Regions from separate parts of the Homo sapiens genome. Here region 2 is linked to region 1. The links come from fine-mapping of genetic effects on gene expression. Tissue or cell type: prefrontal cortex. Region 1 holds a variant in brackets; the other region holds the start of a gene. All regions are shown on one strand. Distances are from middle to middle.

The links. PIP is the estimated chance that this variant, and not a neighbour inherited with it, causes the effect.
Region 2: LINC00997 starts here. The variant in region 1 is fine-mapped to the expression of LINC00997 in prefrontal cortex (GTEx, PIP 0.90).

The regions. Positions count from the first base shown.
Region 1 is chr7:32,507,524-32,515,787 of GRCh38, forward strand. All of the region lies in intron 1 of AVL9 (AVL9 cell migration associated), which reads left to right. Among named protein-coding and RNA genes, the nearest start is that of AVL9, 16 kb to the left of the region's middle. RefSeq lists enhancers at 5,621-6,195, 6,750-7,374. The variant T/G (reference allele first, on the strand shown) is at 3,713.
Region 2 is chr7:32,754,052-32,762,051 of GRCh38, forward strand. It overlaps LINC00997 (long intergenic non-protein coding RNA 997), which reads left to right and starts at 4,235. Exons shown (of 1, transcript NR_036501.1): 1 at 4,235-8,000.

The DNA.
Region 1 (8,264 bases):
CTTCTTTTGTTCAGCATTATGCTTGTGGAATTCATCTATGCCGTTGCATATTCCTGTGGTTTCATTTCTTCTCATAACTGTGTAGTGTTCCCTTTGGTGATAAACCACAATTTATTTATTCAACTGTTGACAGGCATTCGGTTGTTTCATCATGGGCATTACAAATAATGCCATCATGAGCATTTTTTAGATGTCTCTTGGTGCACGTGTGCAAATCATTTTGTTGGATATATACTTAAGAGTGGAATTGATGGATTATAGGGAATACCTGTCTTCGCTTTTAGTAGATATCAAATTGTTTTCCGAAACAGTGGAACCAATTAACTTTATCACTGGTGTTCTTCATGCTCCTTGCCAACACTGGGCATTGTCCATCCTTTTAATTACAGTAATTCTGGTGGGGTATGTAGTGTCATCTCATTATTGTTTTACATCACATTTTTTGATTTGTTATGAGGCTGGACACTTTTTTATAGGTCTGCTGGTCATTGGGCTATCCTCTTTTTGTGACGCACATGCTCCAAATCTTATCCTGTTTTTCAATTGGATTGTCTTTTCTTTATTTGTTGAAGTTCTTTTTATATTATTGAAAAAAGCCATTTAAGACTTATATGTGCTGCAAATTCTTTTCCCTCTCTGTTGCTTGCCTTTTCAGTATCTTAATGGTGTCTTTTTTACACCATAATTGAAATGTGGTCAACTATATTAGTCTTTCCCATTGTGGTTAGTGCTTTTTAAATGCCATTTAAGACATTTTTACTAATTTGATGTCCTGAAGATATTTTTCTGTATTACCTTCTAGATCAGTGTTGTCTAATAAAAATACTAAGTGAGCTGCATACATAATTTAAAATTTGTAGTATCCACATTAAGAGAGCAAAATAATCAGATAAAACTAATTTTAATATTGTGTTTTTTAACTCACTCCAAATTAGTATTTCAAAGTTTCAATATAAAAATTGAGATATTTCACATTGTTTTTTCCTACTAAGTAATTAAAATCAAATGCAAATTTTACTTAATAGCACATCTCGAATGTTCAGTATCCATACATGGGCAGAGCAGTTCTAGAAGATTTATTGTTTTTACCCTTTCACATTATATCTTATGTTCCACCTGAAAATGATTTTTTGAATGAATTGTGAGGTAGAAATCATTACTTACTCATTTGGGCATCCAGTTGCCTTAAGACCACTTTATTGAATATAAAGACAGTCCTATCTTCACTGTTCTGTTATGCTACTTTGGTATTAAAGTGTCCACATATGTGTGTCTTGTTCCTGTATTCTGTGACATTTGTCTATTTTTCTATGCTTGCACCAGTATTACACTATCTTATTATAATTTTTGTAATAAGTTTTGATACCTGGTAAAGAAGAATTTCTTCTTAGGAGAGTCTTGGCTACTCTTGACCCTTTACATTTCCATATAAATTATAATCAGCTTGCCAGGTTCTGCAAAAATATCTTTTGGAGTTTTGATTGAGATTGTATTGAATCTAAGGATCAGTTTGAGGACAGCACTTCTTTTTATATTATCTGTTCATCAGATGCTCTCATCTGGGTAGGATCTGGACATGCTGTGCCTTCCAGACTCTGCTACCTTTCCCTTTCTGGCGTGGAAGCAGCTAACTGAGAGGGAGGCTCAACCCTCAGCTTTGATGAGAGCCCTGGAGGGCCCCCTCCCTCTTTTTGCAGGAGACTTTCCTTAAGGGCAGAAAGTCCCTGGCAAGATTCTGGAATTCTAGGATGAAGAAAAATGAAGTCTGGGAGGAACCAGACCCAAAAAAACACAATAAAAAACAAAACTCTGTACCCTGTATCTATATAGCAGGGGCCTTGTACCCTGTGTGTGAGTTCTCAGGGGTCACCTGTTCTTGCATTGACTTGAACCTAGGGCACATCAACACAACTTACCCTACTTGAAAACAGATTAACGCTTTTTACTCCTCACTCTCCTCTTTCTCTGTCATCAGTCCTATAGTTTGCTTTGTGGTTTCAGACCAAGTTCCATTGAGAAACCAGTTCCAAAGGTAGAGGCTTGTATATCCTAGCTGACTAGACAGGAGAGGAAAGGAACAGACTGTCTTGGCCGGGCGGGCGGATCACTTGAGGTCAGGAGTTTGAGACCAGCTTGGCCAACATAATGAAACCCCATCTCTACTAAAAATACAAAAAATTAGCCAGGCGTGGTGGCGGGCGCCTGTAATCCCAGCTACTCGGGAGGCTGAAGTGGGAGAATCACTTGAACTGAGAGGTGGAGGTTGCAGTGAACCAAGATCACACCACTGTACTCCAGCCTGGGCAACAGAGTGAGACTGTCTCAAAAAGAAAAAAAGACTGTCTAGAAAAAGGTAATCTCTAGAATCTGAAGAGGGTTAACAAAATGAGGATTAAGGCAAAATACAGTTAGTAATAAGATAACAAGGAATCTGATCATGGAAAAGGGGTCCTTGTAACTTACTGAGGCTGAATGTTGGTTTACCATCTTACATTTTCTACGTCCATTAAATCAGCCTTCTGGGAATCCACAGTCCTGGCAATTCTGAACTGCCCCAGGAGGAGGGAAGCCATCTCTCTAGGGTGAGATAGGTGAGCCATCAGGTCTGGTGGTGGGAGTCCACAGTCCTGGCACTTCTGAACTGCCCCAGTAGGAGCGAGCCCATCTCTCCAGGGTGAGATACGTGAGCCGTCAGGTCTGGCTGTGGGAGTCCACAGTCCTGACACTTCTGAACTGCCCCAGTAGGAGGAAAGCCATCTCTCCAAGGTGAGATTTGTGAGCTGTCAGGTCTGGCTGAGAGAATGCACAGTCCTGGCAATTCTGAACTGCCCCAGTATGAGGGAAACCATCTCCCCAGGGTAAGATTTGTGAGCCGTCATGTCTGGCTGTGGGAGTCCACAGTCCTGGCACTTCTGAACTGCCCCAGTATGAGGGAAGCCATCTCTCCAGGGTGAGATTCATGAGCCATCAGGTCTCGTTGGGAGAATCCACAGTCCTGGCACTTCTGAACTGCCCCAGTATGAGGGAAGCCATCTCTCCAGGGTAAGATTTGTGAGCCGTCAGGTCTGGTTGTAGGAGTCCACAGTCCTGGCACTTCTGAACTGCCCCATTATGAGGGAAACCATCTCCCCAGGGTAAGATTTGTGAGCCGTCAGGTCTGGTTGTGGGAGTCTACAGTCCTGGCACTTCTGAACTGCCCCAGTATGAGGGAAACCATCTCCCCAGGGTAAGATTTGTGAGCCGTCAGGTCTGGGTGTAGGAGTCCACAGTCCTGGCACTTCTGAACTGCCCCAGTATGAGGGAAGCCGTCTCTCCAGGGTGAGATTCATGAGCCATCAGGTCTCGTTGGGAGAATCCACAGTCCTGGCACTTCTGAACTGCCCCAGTATGAGGGAAGCCATCTCTCCAGGGTAAGATTTGTGAGCCGTCAGGTCTGGTTGTGGGAGTCCACAATCCTGGCACTTCTGAACTGCCCCGGTATGAGGGAAACCATCTCCCCAGGGTAAGATTTGTGAGCCGTCAGGTCTGGTTGTGGGAGTCCACAGTCCTGGCACTTCTGAACTGCCCCAGTATGAGGGAAACCATCTCCCCAGGGTAAGATTTGTGAGCCGTCAGGTCTGGTTGTAGGAGTCCACAGTCCTGGCACTTCTGAACTGCCCCAGTATGAGGGAAGCCATCTCTCCAGGGTGAGATTCATGAGCCATCAAGTCTC[T/G]TTGGGAGAATCCACAGTCCTGGCAATTCTGAACTGCCCCAGTATGAGGGAAACCATCTCCCCAGGGTAAGATTTGTGAGCCGTCAGGTCTGCTTGTGGGAATCCACAGTCCTGGCACTTCTGAACTGCCCCAGTATGAGGAAAGCAATCTCTCCAGGGTGAGATTTGTGAGCCATCAGGTCTGGTTGTGGGAGTCCACAGTCCTGGAAATTCTGAACTGCCCCAGTAGGAGGGAAGCCATCTCTCTAGGATAAGATGCAGGGGTGTACTAGGTTGTGGGGATTAGAGTACAGGGGACTAGCAAGAGGGTCTATGAGGAGGGCGAGGGGGAAAGATAGGAGGACACTTGGAAAGGGGTGCCTGACGAGCAGGGCGGTGGCATACGGACGCTCTGGAATTAACAGAGGAAGAGCTGGGCAGGGAGTTCCGGGAGGTAGGGTGCTGGGAAGGGGCGACATTAGTCAGCTGGGGGAAACAGGTACGCTGGAAAACTGAACAGCTTGGACGGTCCTGGAGAGGAGGCTGAGGGCAGGAAGTTTGAGGAGTAAGGGGAGGAAGAAGGGCTGGAAGACGAGAGCCAGAAGGAACAGAAAGAAATGGAGGCCAGGGTTGAGGCCGAGAAATTGGAGGTAGCTTTCTGGTCATTTTTCCAAATGAGTGCTGTAGTAACTCACTTGTCCAAACGAGTCAGAATGAATAACTGAGATGTGCTGAGACCGACTCCAGCATTTATCTCCTCAGGACATTCCATCACAGAATGCCTATTATGAAACATACATTTATCTCCTTAGGACATTTCTTGATGGAATGCCCATTATGAAACATACATGCTCCCTTTTATTCTAGTGAGGAGGCCCCATCAATCAGGGAAATGGTCCCAGTTTCTCAGTTTAAGAGTGGTCATGGGAAGTAGCAAAGAAAATAAATGGATCTGTAATTATTGGTCCTTGTTCTTGGGATACCATGTAGTTTTGCCCCTCCATAGGCAAAGATTGATCAAGGGGCTAACAGAGGCAGGGGCTTGGGGCCTAGGAGAGCAGTTCTGAAGCAGGAATTGGGAAAATGGGAAGTCAGTATCCTAGTCTCTTTTCCTTACTACATTGTTCAAAGCCCTTTCACATCATTTACCTCACTGTGTGAATGCACATGATTAGAGATGTTACGTTATTTTATCGATGAGGACACTAAAGACCAGAAAACGAACTACCAGTAGGCACAAAGCAGGTGGGACTAGAACTTGGCCAGAAAGAGGGCTGGTGGGAGGGAGCACAGAATGGCACAAAGTGCTTACCAGCATCTTTGCCTCCTCCTGTGTCTCTGGACAGGATCTTGTAGGAGGAGCTTAAGAGCAGAACTGTACTTTTCGTAGCTTACCTCGTAGTTCCTGTGGTCCCTTGGTTTGATGCCTTTCTGTTCACTGGAACCAGAAACAAAAGGCCAAAGCTGGTACACTCTCTGCCCATTGAAACTGTGCCCCAAAGAGCTGAAGAAAGCAGTAACAGAAATCTTCGAGCTTGCAGGATGGCAGATAAGAAACAACTTGCTAAAATAAAACTCCCTCCCCTTCTAAGAGAATGAAATTGGCTAAAATTGGTTAAAACTAATATGGCCAATGAATATATGTAGAATGAACTCGCTGATATCACAACCCAAATTTCTACCACATGTTTCATACTGACTCCTCTTGTTTCATACTAACTTCCCCTGAATTTGTGTATGGGATCCATGAGGAGGCATGGAGAGATAACTGTGCACGCCTGAGGGACTTCGCAGATGTTCCCTTTCCTTCTACCAACTACTTGCTAATCCCAGAATCAGCCCCTTAACCTTTTCTAATAAAAGTACTGCCTTAAAGCCAGCACAGGGAGACAGATTTGAGCTGGACTCCTGTCTCCTTGTTGAGTAACCTGCAATGAAAAGCTTTTCTTTTCTCAAAAACCTGGTGTCATAGTATTGGCTTTGTAAACCAAAAATAAAATTCAAAGGCACCCCTGCAACCATCCCAATGGATTCCCTCCTCAGCCAGGGCACCCTAAAATTTAACCAAAAAAGACTGGTTTAGGCCTTGAAGCCAGGTGGGGGTTGAACTTGCTTCATTATACCCTTCCAGCATTACTATCATCACAGACCTTAAGAAACATTTACAGTCTATTCTCTCTAAAGCCTGATACTTGGAGGCTTCATCTGCATGATAAAACCTCCGCAACCCCTTGTCTTCACCCAGACATTCTTTTCTATAGATAAAAACTCTTTCAACCAATTGCCAATCAGAATATGTTTAAGTGTACCTATGACTTGGAAGCCTCCTTCTTTGAGTTGTCCCACCCTTCCAGATCAAACCAATGTAAATCTTAATGTATTGGTGGATGTATTGAAGGGGGCCTGCCCCTCCACACCTGTGGGTATTTCTCGCAAGGTGGAGACGAGAGACTGAGAAAAGAAATAAGACACGGAGACAAAGTATAGAGGACGAAAAGTGGGCCCAGGGGACCAGCGCTCAGCAAGTTAGGACCTGCACCAGCGCTGGTCTCTGAGTTCCCTCAGTATTTATTGATCACTATCTTTACTATCTTGGTGAGGGGAATGTGGTGTAACTATAGGGTGATGGTGGGGAGAGGGTCAGCAGAAAAACATTTGAGCAAAGGAATCTGTGTCATAAATAAGGAAAGGTGTTGTGCCTGGATGTGCACATAGGCTAGTTTTATGTTTAACTTTACATAAACATTTCAGTGCAGTAAAAAGTAACAGAGCAGTATTGCCACCATGATGTCTCACCTCCAGCCATAAGGCGGTTTTCTCCTATCTCAGAATAGAATGTACGCTCGGTTTTACACCAAGTCATTCCATTCCCAGAGACATGCAGGAAACAAATGCCTTCCTCTTATCTCAACTGCATGGAAGTCTTCCTCTTTCACTAATCCTCCTCAGCACTGACCCTTTACAGGTGTCGGGCTGAGGGGCTGTAAGGTCTTTCCCTTCCCACGAGGCCATATCTTAGGCTGTCTCAGTGGGGAGAAACCTGGACAATACCCAGGCTTTCTTGGGCAGGGGTCCCTGCGGCCTTCCACAGTGCATTGTGTCTCTGGTTAATAGAGAATGGAGAATGGCGATGACTTTCACAAAGCATACTGCCTGCAAACACATTTTTAACAAAGCACATCCTGCACAGCCCTGAATTCCTTAAACCTCAGTCAATACTGTCAGGCCTCTGAGCCCAAGCCAAGCCATCGCATCCCCTGTGACTTGCACGTATATGCCCAGATGGCCTAAAGTAACTGAAGAATCACAAAAGAAGTGAAAATGCCCTGCCCCGCCTTAACTGATGACATTCTACCACAAAAGAAGTGTAAATGGCCGGTCCTTGCCTTAACCGATGACATTCCCCCACAAAAGAAGTGAAAATGGCCGGTCCTTGCCTTAAGTGATGACATTACCTTGTGAAAGTCCTTTTCCTGGCTCATCCTGGCTCAGAAACCTTCCTTACTGAGCACCTCGTGACCCCCACTCCTACCCGCCAGAGAACAAACACCCTTTGACCGTAATTTTCCTTTACCTACCCAAATCTTATAAAACAGCCCCACCCCTATCTCCCTTCACTGACTCTCTTTTCGGACTCAGCCCGCCTGCACCCAGGTGATTAAAAGCTTTATTGCTCACACAAAGCCTGTTTGGTGGTCTCTTCACACGGACACGCATGAAAAATACAGCACATGTTTTTGTGAGCACAGGGTTGGGACAAGAGTTACAGATTAACAGCATCTCAAAGCAGAACAATTTTTCTTAGTGCAGATCAAAATGGAGTTTCTTATATCTTCCTTTTTCTCCATAGACACAGTAACAATCTGATCTCTCTTTGTTTTCCCCATAATGTATTATGTCTCCATAAAATGTATAAAAGCAAGCTGGAGCCTAACCACCTTGGGCATGTGTCCTCAGGACCTTCTAAGGATGTGTCACAGGTACGTCTTTAACCTCGGCAAAATAAACTTTCTAAATTGATTCAGACTTGTCTCAAATACTTTTTGGTTTACAAATTGGCAACCGATGAAAGAGACTCTGAGTATAGGTGGCCTCAACCTCTGACAAATCTATTGATATTTAGTACCAGCTTTTAGCTGTCTTTATGGTCGAAACCAACAGGACAATTGGCTGAGAGCTGGGAGCCCTCCTCCCTCCAGAGAATCCTGATCTCCCCAAATTTGGTTGAGATCCAAAGTGTATTTTGCTGTACAACTCCTTTTCTAGAGTTTTACTTGCTTCCAACAAGGAAAGCAAGTTTTCCTGCTTCCATGACAATAGAAGGCAGGTAACTCCTTTCTGGAGTTAGAGCTCACTTCCAACAGAGAAGGCGAATTTGAGTTTTCCTGCTTCTAGAATGGTAGAGAGCAGTCTTCAGCCTGAGACCCATTCCTAGGTAAGTGACTGAATTGGGGTTTCATCTTGGTTAAAGTTATGATGCAGCTGGTCGTAGTTTCTCCTTACTGTTATAGCGCTCAGTAATCATATTGTTGGGTTTTTGTTGTTGTTTGTTCTGGTCTTTCTCCCATCAGAT
Region 2 (8,000 bases), 250 kb after region 1:
GGCAGCCGCCCCGTCCGGGAGGTGGGGGGCAGCCCCCACCCGGCCAGCCACCCCGCACGGGAGGGAGGTGGGGCCAGCCCCTGCCTGGCCAGCCGCCCCATTCGGGAGGTGGGGGGCAGCCCCTGCCCGGCAGCCATCCCGTCCGGGAGGTGGGGGGCGCCTCTGCCCGGCTGCCCCATCTGGGAAGTGAGGAGCCCCTCTGCCCGGCAGCCACCCCGTCTGGGAGGTGTGCCCAACAGCTCATTGAGAACGGGCCATGATGACGATGGCGGTTTTGTCGAATAGAAAGGGGGGAAATGTGGGGAAAAGAAAGAGAAATCAGATTGTTGCGGCGTCTGTGTAGAAAGAAGTAGATATAGGAGACTCCATTTTGTTCTGTACTAAGAAAAATTCTTCTGCCTTGGGATGCTGTTAATCTATAACCTTACCCCCAACCCCGTGCTCTCTGAAACATGTGCTGTGTCCACTCAGGGTTAAATGGATTAAGGGCGGTGCAAGATGTGCTTTGTTAAACAGATGCTTGAAGGCAGCATGCTCGTTAAGAGTCATCACCACTCCCTAATCTCAAGTACCCAGGGACACAAACACTGCGGAAGGCTGCAGGGTCCTCTGCCTAGGAAAACCAGAGACCCTTGTTCACATGTTTATCTGCTGACCTTCCCTCCACTATTGTCCTATGACCCTGCCAAATCCCCCTCTCCAAAAAACACCCAAGAATGATCAATAAATACTAAAAAAAAAAAAAAAAAAAAACAACCATAGTCTTTTAGGCTAAGTGTTGGAAGATAGTAATAGATTTCCGGCTGTGTGACTAAATAAATCTTACTTTACTAACGTAAGTCCAAGATAACTATTCAAGCTCATCACTCTCACTGTCCCTTCACGTGGTCATCGTGCCCACCTACGAGGTATCCAAAGCCAAAAGCCCATCCCCATTTAGAACCTTTTTGGCTCCCATGACTCTCTTTTCCATTTGGCTTGTCTATTACCCTGGCTATTATTTACACACTAAAGTTCATTCTTTGAGTTCATGAGAGAACAGTTTCTGGGGTCTTTAAATTTTAAGAGAGGAACTTATGATATTCTGCTCAACTATAAGGATACACACAACTAATAAACGTGAAAGGTCCCCTCCCTTTCTTAAAAAGATTGTGCTTACTATTTTTATCTGATAAAGAGGATCACTCTATAAATATATTATTTGTCTCAAATTATGACTCACCTCTGGATAAAGATGGAAGCATTTTACTGCATTAATTCCAAGAGGATTTCAGTAAGCCTGTCATTCATTATCGTCCCCAGTCCTTCCAAAAATGAAGGTGCTTCAATATTGGTCTCGAAGTAGGAATAAAAGTCCCTTTAAAAAAAAAAAAAAAAAAAGAAGGCACATGTTGTCAATGTAATTAAAACTTTAAAATATTTATTTTTATCACTTCTTTAGAACATTTTTTTCTGAAAAAAAAGGTCAATAATAAGACTTCCTAATTACGCCTCGCTATTTTGCATTCTTGGACTTTAAAAAGCACGTATTTTCAGGTGATCACTGTACTATTCTTTCAAGTTTTCTATAGGCTTTCAAACTAAAGAGTTGGAGGGATGGTCGAATGATTTAAAGAGTTTCTCTAATAATGTCTTAAAATGTGTAGACAGTATATGTTCAATTTTCCCAAATCTGGTTTTATCCCCCACATTTGAGATGCTTGAAGGTTGACATCTGATTAATTCTGTCATAAACAGGGATGCCTTCATGCCTCTGTACAACTTTGCATATAGAAAATTACTTCTTTTTTTCCCATGCTCTTAGGAAATAAAATATAATGACCATAAGCATCATGAGCAAGGAATCCAGTGCTTCTAGCTTAATTCATAGCTCCATCTAATCCTCTGTGCTAAGTGAAAGCTCAATGTTGATTGACTATTGTTGCTCACAAATACTATGTACTAAAAAGCAGATTATTTTAGTGTCTTACACTTCAGCATATAAAATAAAGGCTTCATTAGGATAGTAAAAGTGCTGTTGAGTTAAAATTCATGGATTAACAATAGCATGTTATGTCTTATTTCCCCATCAATTTCTTGCTTTCGCTCCTAAAATCTAAAAGCAAAAAAGGGCCACATTGTTTAAAATGCATTCTCCCTAAAAAATGCTATATGCTATAATCATATCTGCCTCATCCAACACGAGTAACTACTAAATTAAACGTCTGTTTTAGCTGATGTCTGAAAGGCCATTACCTCATAGTTGATTGGCAAAATATGAGTTCATAAAGAATTTTCCTTTCTGCTTAGGAGGATAAAGCAATACAATAATTAAAGGATATCTAATATGCAAAAGTCTATATTTAGGGAAATATTAAATATTCTCTTTAAAATGTTCAAATGTCATACATATGTTAATGTATCCAATGCTTTGAAACTTTATAGGGGCAATATAGGGATGAAAATTAAAAAGCAGTGACGGAGGGGCCTGGCATAGGCAAAATCATAGAGATAGAAAATAGAGCTGAGTGTGATTAGTGTTTAGTGGGTGGAGTTTCTGTTTGGGATAGCAAAAAGTTCTGGATGTGGACAGTGGTAATAGTTGCAAGACAACACGAATGTACTTAATGTCACTGAATTGTACGCTTAAATGATAACCATTGACATTTTTCTATTACAAACTTAAATCTAAATTTCACCATAATTTAAACAAAAAGCAATGGCTAGAGTGAGGAGAGTCAGCTTCAATGCTTCAGTAGGCCCCCGACCAGCTGGGAGCAGATCTGGAAGATGGACGGTTGTGGTGTCTTCTAAATGTAAAATTGCACAATTTTGGTATTCGCTATCCCATTTACTCCTCACAATAATTATGTGAGATGTGTATGGCAGAAAACTCCATTTTAAAGATTAAGTATCGAAAAACAGAAAAATATTTAAAAATTATATCAAAAGTCATCTCTTAAAAGAGATTATCTTGAAATCAAAAGAGAACCAAATAATAATCATCATCAGTAAAAGACCCAGTAAAACATGGGACCTCCCAACTGTAGCCAAAGAAAAAGCAATTTCTGATAACATCTCATTTCATTCCCCTTTATCACTTCTTCAGTGCTTTCTTTGTCCTCCTTCCTCAGCTACTATAATTCATCTTCATTATCTTAAAAAGAAGTCTGCATTAGGAAAGGGTGAGAGATAATGAAGTAACAGAAAAATAATCTCAAACACTTTACTATTTAAATAATAAACCTGGGTTATAGCTTATGAAACAGTGCAATGAAGTATCATATTACAATAAGAACAAGTTTCAAAACCAACATTAAAATAAGCGATAAGTAAGAAAGCCATAAAAAAGGAAACAATAAATTGTTATAATATTGTTTTTATAATTTGCTTACTAACTCGTATGTTTTTAGGCATTTATAATGCAGTATGGCACACACCTGAAATTCCTTAACTCAGTGGTTTTTAAACTTAATTGTTGCCGGGTGCGTTGGCTCATGCCTGTAATCCCAGCACTTTGGGAGCCCGAGGCGGGCAGATCACTTGAGGTCAGGAGTTTGAGACCAGCCTGGCCAACATGGTGAAACCCTGTCTCTACTAAAAATACAAAAATTAGCCAGCCATGGTAGTGCATGTCTGTAATCCTGGCTGCTAGGGAGGCTGAGGCAGAAGAATTGCTTGAACCCAGCAGGCGGAGGTTGCAGTGAGCAGAGATCATGCCACTGCACTCCAGCCTGGGCGACAGAGTAAGACTCTGTCTCAAAAAAAAAAAACCAACTTAATTGTATATCTAAAATTCTTGTGGCTTGTTTCACCCTTCCTTCCATCCCAGGCCTCTAAATCAGAACAGAGGCAGGTTAGTGTTTGTTTTTTAAGTTTCAAGTGATTCTAATGTACCAGCCTTGGGAAATACCTCCGTAACTGTTGAAAAGGGTTCAGAATATAATTTTAAATAAAATTACTTTAGATCAAAACAGACTTACAATAAGTATAATATCACATAAAGGATCAACTTTCAAGCGCCAAAGAATACAGGTGTGTACTTGAAGACCTTTTAGTAGTGAAACTCAGCAGCTGTAGGCAGTGAAGAAAGGAGCATATGTGATAAACAAAATTAGCTGTGGTCAACAATTATGCTATAGCTAACTTATGTAGTCAGTACTTTCCAGTGAAGTTGAAAATAAAGCAAAGTTCCATGTATTAACCCTGTTTTCCACTAACCCTTCTTTACATGTAGGACATATGCCAGGGTACCAAAAACTGCAGGAATATTCCCTAGCATTGCAGCCTCAGTTCTAATACCAAAATCTCCCTGCAGACTAAATGTCTAGAGCAGCACTGTATCAATAGAACATAGGGGCAGATCTCATACCTTCCAAGGGTAGAAATCGCTGAGCACAGGTAAAAATAAAATATTCCAGAGGGAAATATTATTTTACAAATTTTTATAAACACTTTTGTAAAATAATGTACACAGCCTTGCACACTGAAAGAGTCAAAGCCATTTAACTCTGTATAACCACTGCAGAATCTTTATCTTCTTTTTTACCTGACTTCCAATTGGCGGGTGTTACTAAAACTTTATCACCAAAGTTATTTCACTAGCTGAGCGTGGTGGCTCATGCCTGTAATCCCAACACTTTGGGAGGCCAAGGCAGGTGGATCATTTGAGGCCAGGAGTTTGACACCAACCTGGCCAACACGGTGAAACCTCATCTCCACTAAAAATACAACAAATTGGCTGGGTGTGGTGGCGCATACCTGTAATCCCAGCTACTCAGAAGGCTGAGGCACGAGAATCACTTGAGCCTGGGAGGCATAGGTTGCAATGAGTCAAGATCGCGCCACTGCACTCCAGCCTGGGAGACAGAGCAAGACTGTCTCAAAAAAAAAAAAAAAAGTTATTTCACTAGCAACATATAATTACCATAAAACAAAGGAGGGTTTTAAATGAACTACACATGCAAAATACACTAGAAAAGCTAGATATTTTTAAAAACGTGGTGAATTATTTGGTAAAGCCAAAATATTTTAATTCATAAGTTACTATTCCCCCAATGCATCTATTTTGTAAATGCTGTTTCACATATGAGGTTTGTAAAAAAGCAAAATATATGTATAAAATGGCGTACATAAAGATGTTCTACAAATATAGCCAGAAGTTATTGTTTTACTGTATGCAAAGAGTGATGGCAATTTTTAATTCAAATGTTTTTAAATATTTCGAACTGAAACTAAATCTTACCAATGTAAAATTGCCACAAAGACGGCTGGAAAAGAGAAAAGTTATTAAAAGCTGCTTTATTATAAAATACCATTAAAACAAGTATTTCAAATGTATTATTTTACATGTCTAGAAAAGATAGCACAGAAAGCAAGATGGCCAGCTAATCCTGTCTCTATGAGCATAGGAAAAAATCCAGGACACAAAGTAAATTCTGAACAGAGCTTACCTCTCTGCAGCAGGGCTTGACAAGCAAAGGGAGAGACTTGAGAGGGTTTTTTTACTTCAGTTAATTGGTAGGAGTGATGGAATTATGGAATATTGTGACCTTTTTTGTTTTTTTTTCTTTTTAGTATTCTATTCCTTTATATGAAATTTTTTAAAGAAGTAAATATATACAGTATGCTTCAGCTCGTTCTAACCAAGAGGTGCCACTCTAGATCAGTTTCTCTAGCATTCATCAGAAGACGATTAAATGCAGGCAATCACTTCCTCAGCAGCACATCTAAAAGCCCCATTGTGCAACTCAACCCTTGATGAATTGCAAGCTCTTTGCAAGCGCCCAGACTTAGGAACTACTAGATGGCCTAGGAGACTTATCTGGAGGCACCTGTGCCAGCACCCCATGTATACGTAAGACTTCACCAGGGAGCTGGGAGACACTGCTCTGGGTATGGAGCTTTTACCAGAGCTGCAAACGCAGCCTGTGCCCCTGTTTCGTTGGGGAATTGCTTGTTTTCAAGGGTACCATGGAGCTGGAGAGAGAAAAGTGGGGAATAGAACAAGTTAAAACACCACAGACTTTGCTGTTCTTATAGAGGTTCAGCAGCTTTTCTTGAATTAATGCCCTTTAGATTGTTGTAAACCTTTGGTTAACTTCCAAAGTTTTGAAGAAAATGATTTTGATAATTTTCCAAGTATTTTCATTGTCATCATGGAGGAGTGCATTTCCTTGGCTATTCCAGAAGTCCTACCTCCCTTCTGAGATTTTATAATGGTATTTCTTATGGTTATCCCAAATATACTTGGCAAGTCGTCTTATAAACCACCAATAATAGCCTCTTAAAAATTCAAAAATTACTCCTCTTGGCTAACAAAATAAATGCAAATTAATTTAATAATTGTTGAAGAAATTAAATTTTTTAAAATTAAAAAATTGCAATGTTGAAATTCTCAACCATGCTTATCCAGACCTTTTCCTATACTACTAACTGCCCTGGGCTTATCTTAAATACTTCTCAGAAGATTTACTTGTTTTACACCAGGATAGGCAAAGTATGGCCCACAGTGTATTTTTGGACTGTCTGCAAGCACAGTTGCTATAATTTTTAAAAGGCTGAAAACTTTAAATTTTTGTAAATATGCTCATTAACTGTTTATTAGGCTTCATTAATTTTAAAATATACAGAGACTATCCTATTCAACTATATTTGTATCCTATTTCTAATTCTCCTAACAATTATATACACTGGCAAAAACTCTTCAGATGATATATAAGGAAAAGGTCAAATATACTACCGAATTCATCCAGCTTTCCAAAGATGCTCAAAATCTTTCTGTGTCTCTCACTCCCTCCCTTAACCCACATACCACATCTGAAAAAAAATGATATGGTGTAACGATGCCAGTATTCTAAATGCTTGAAGGGCTTATCACATGCCCTTTCCAAGCTGTGACAGAAGCATGTCCCTTGGACCCCGGCATCCTGTCAATCTCACCTCTGAAGGTGACCCAGTCTCATACTTCACTGAAACAAAGACCATTAGACGCCAGCACTCCCGACTTCTTTTATCTCCACTTTAACATTTCTCCATATAGTAATCCTCACTTTTCTACTCCCTGTCATCTCAGAAAAGGAATTCTCTCTCCTCTTTTCCACAGTTAGCTTCTCAAATTTGTGCCTTTAATTCTACCCCTCCCAAATATTCCAAGACTTGCTCCACTAATTATTTCCTCTCTTGGAATCTTAATCTCATCCTCTTCCCTTGATCCCTCCCCTCAGCCTTTAAAACTCCTAGACCTTAAAACACTCTCTGTGATCTGACAGCCCTTCAAACCAATATACTCCCCATCTCTCTCCCCTGGTTCAATGGCAAGATCTTTGGCCAACTGCTTTCTACTCGGACCTTGCTATTATTTGCTACTAGGCACCCACAAACCGTTGCTTGTTAAACTGATCTCCTTCAAGACTTAAGAAAAGCGCCATGCGGCTCCCTCCCAGGGCTCTCCTGCCCTCTCCTCACCGATGCCAAGAGTGGTCCTGCTGGAGAACTGCCGCGCCTGCAGTTCGTGCACCTTTTCCCGAAGCTGCGCCAGGAAATTATGGACGAACTGGAAGGGGCCGAGAAGAAGGGTCTTGGCCCCCAACTGTAGCTCCAAGCCTTTTTGTGCTTTCAGATTTCGGATCCTCCGCGTGGAGCACCTTGGGGCGCCCCTTGGCAGGTTCCCGCCGCATAGGGCCGACTTTTCCACCTCTGGCTCCAGGGCGGGAAGATTGTAGCGGCTTTGAGCTTACTACTTGTTTTCTTATAATCCCTGGCGGAGCTGGGTCAATTTCAGGCACAGCCCAGCTCAGTCAGGCGAGGTCCAGAAAGGCCTGACTTGCCTGGCAGCCTCAACGGACTTGTCCCCGCAGCCCTTGCGGACCTCCTGGTCGTCATGGCGACTGTGAAATGTGGGGTGGGGAGCATGCGTTCGAAGCCATTTGCGCGGGCAGTCCCTGCGTGTCCCCCCACGTGCTCCCCAGCACTCGCAGGACCCCCGCCTCCGAGCTTCCCTGAGCGTGCAGCTTCCAGTG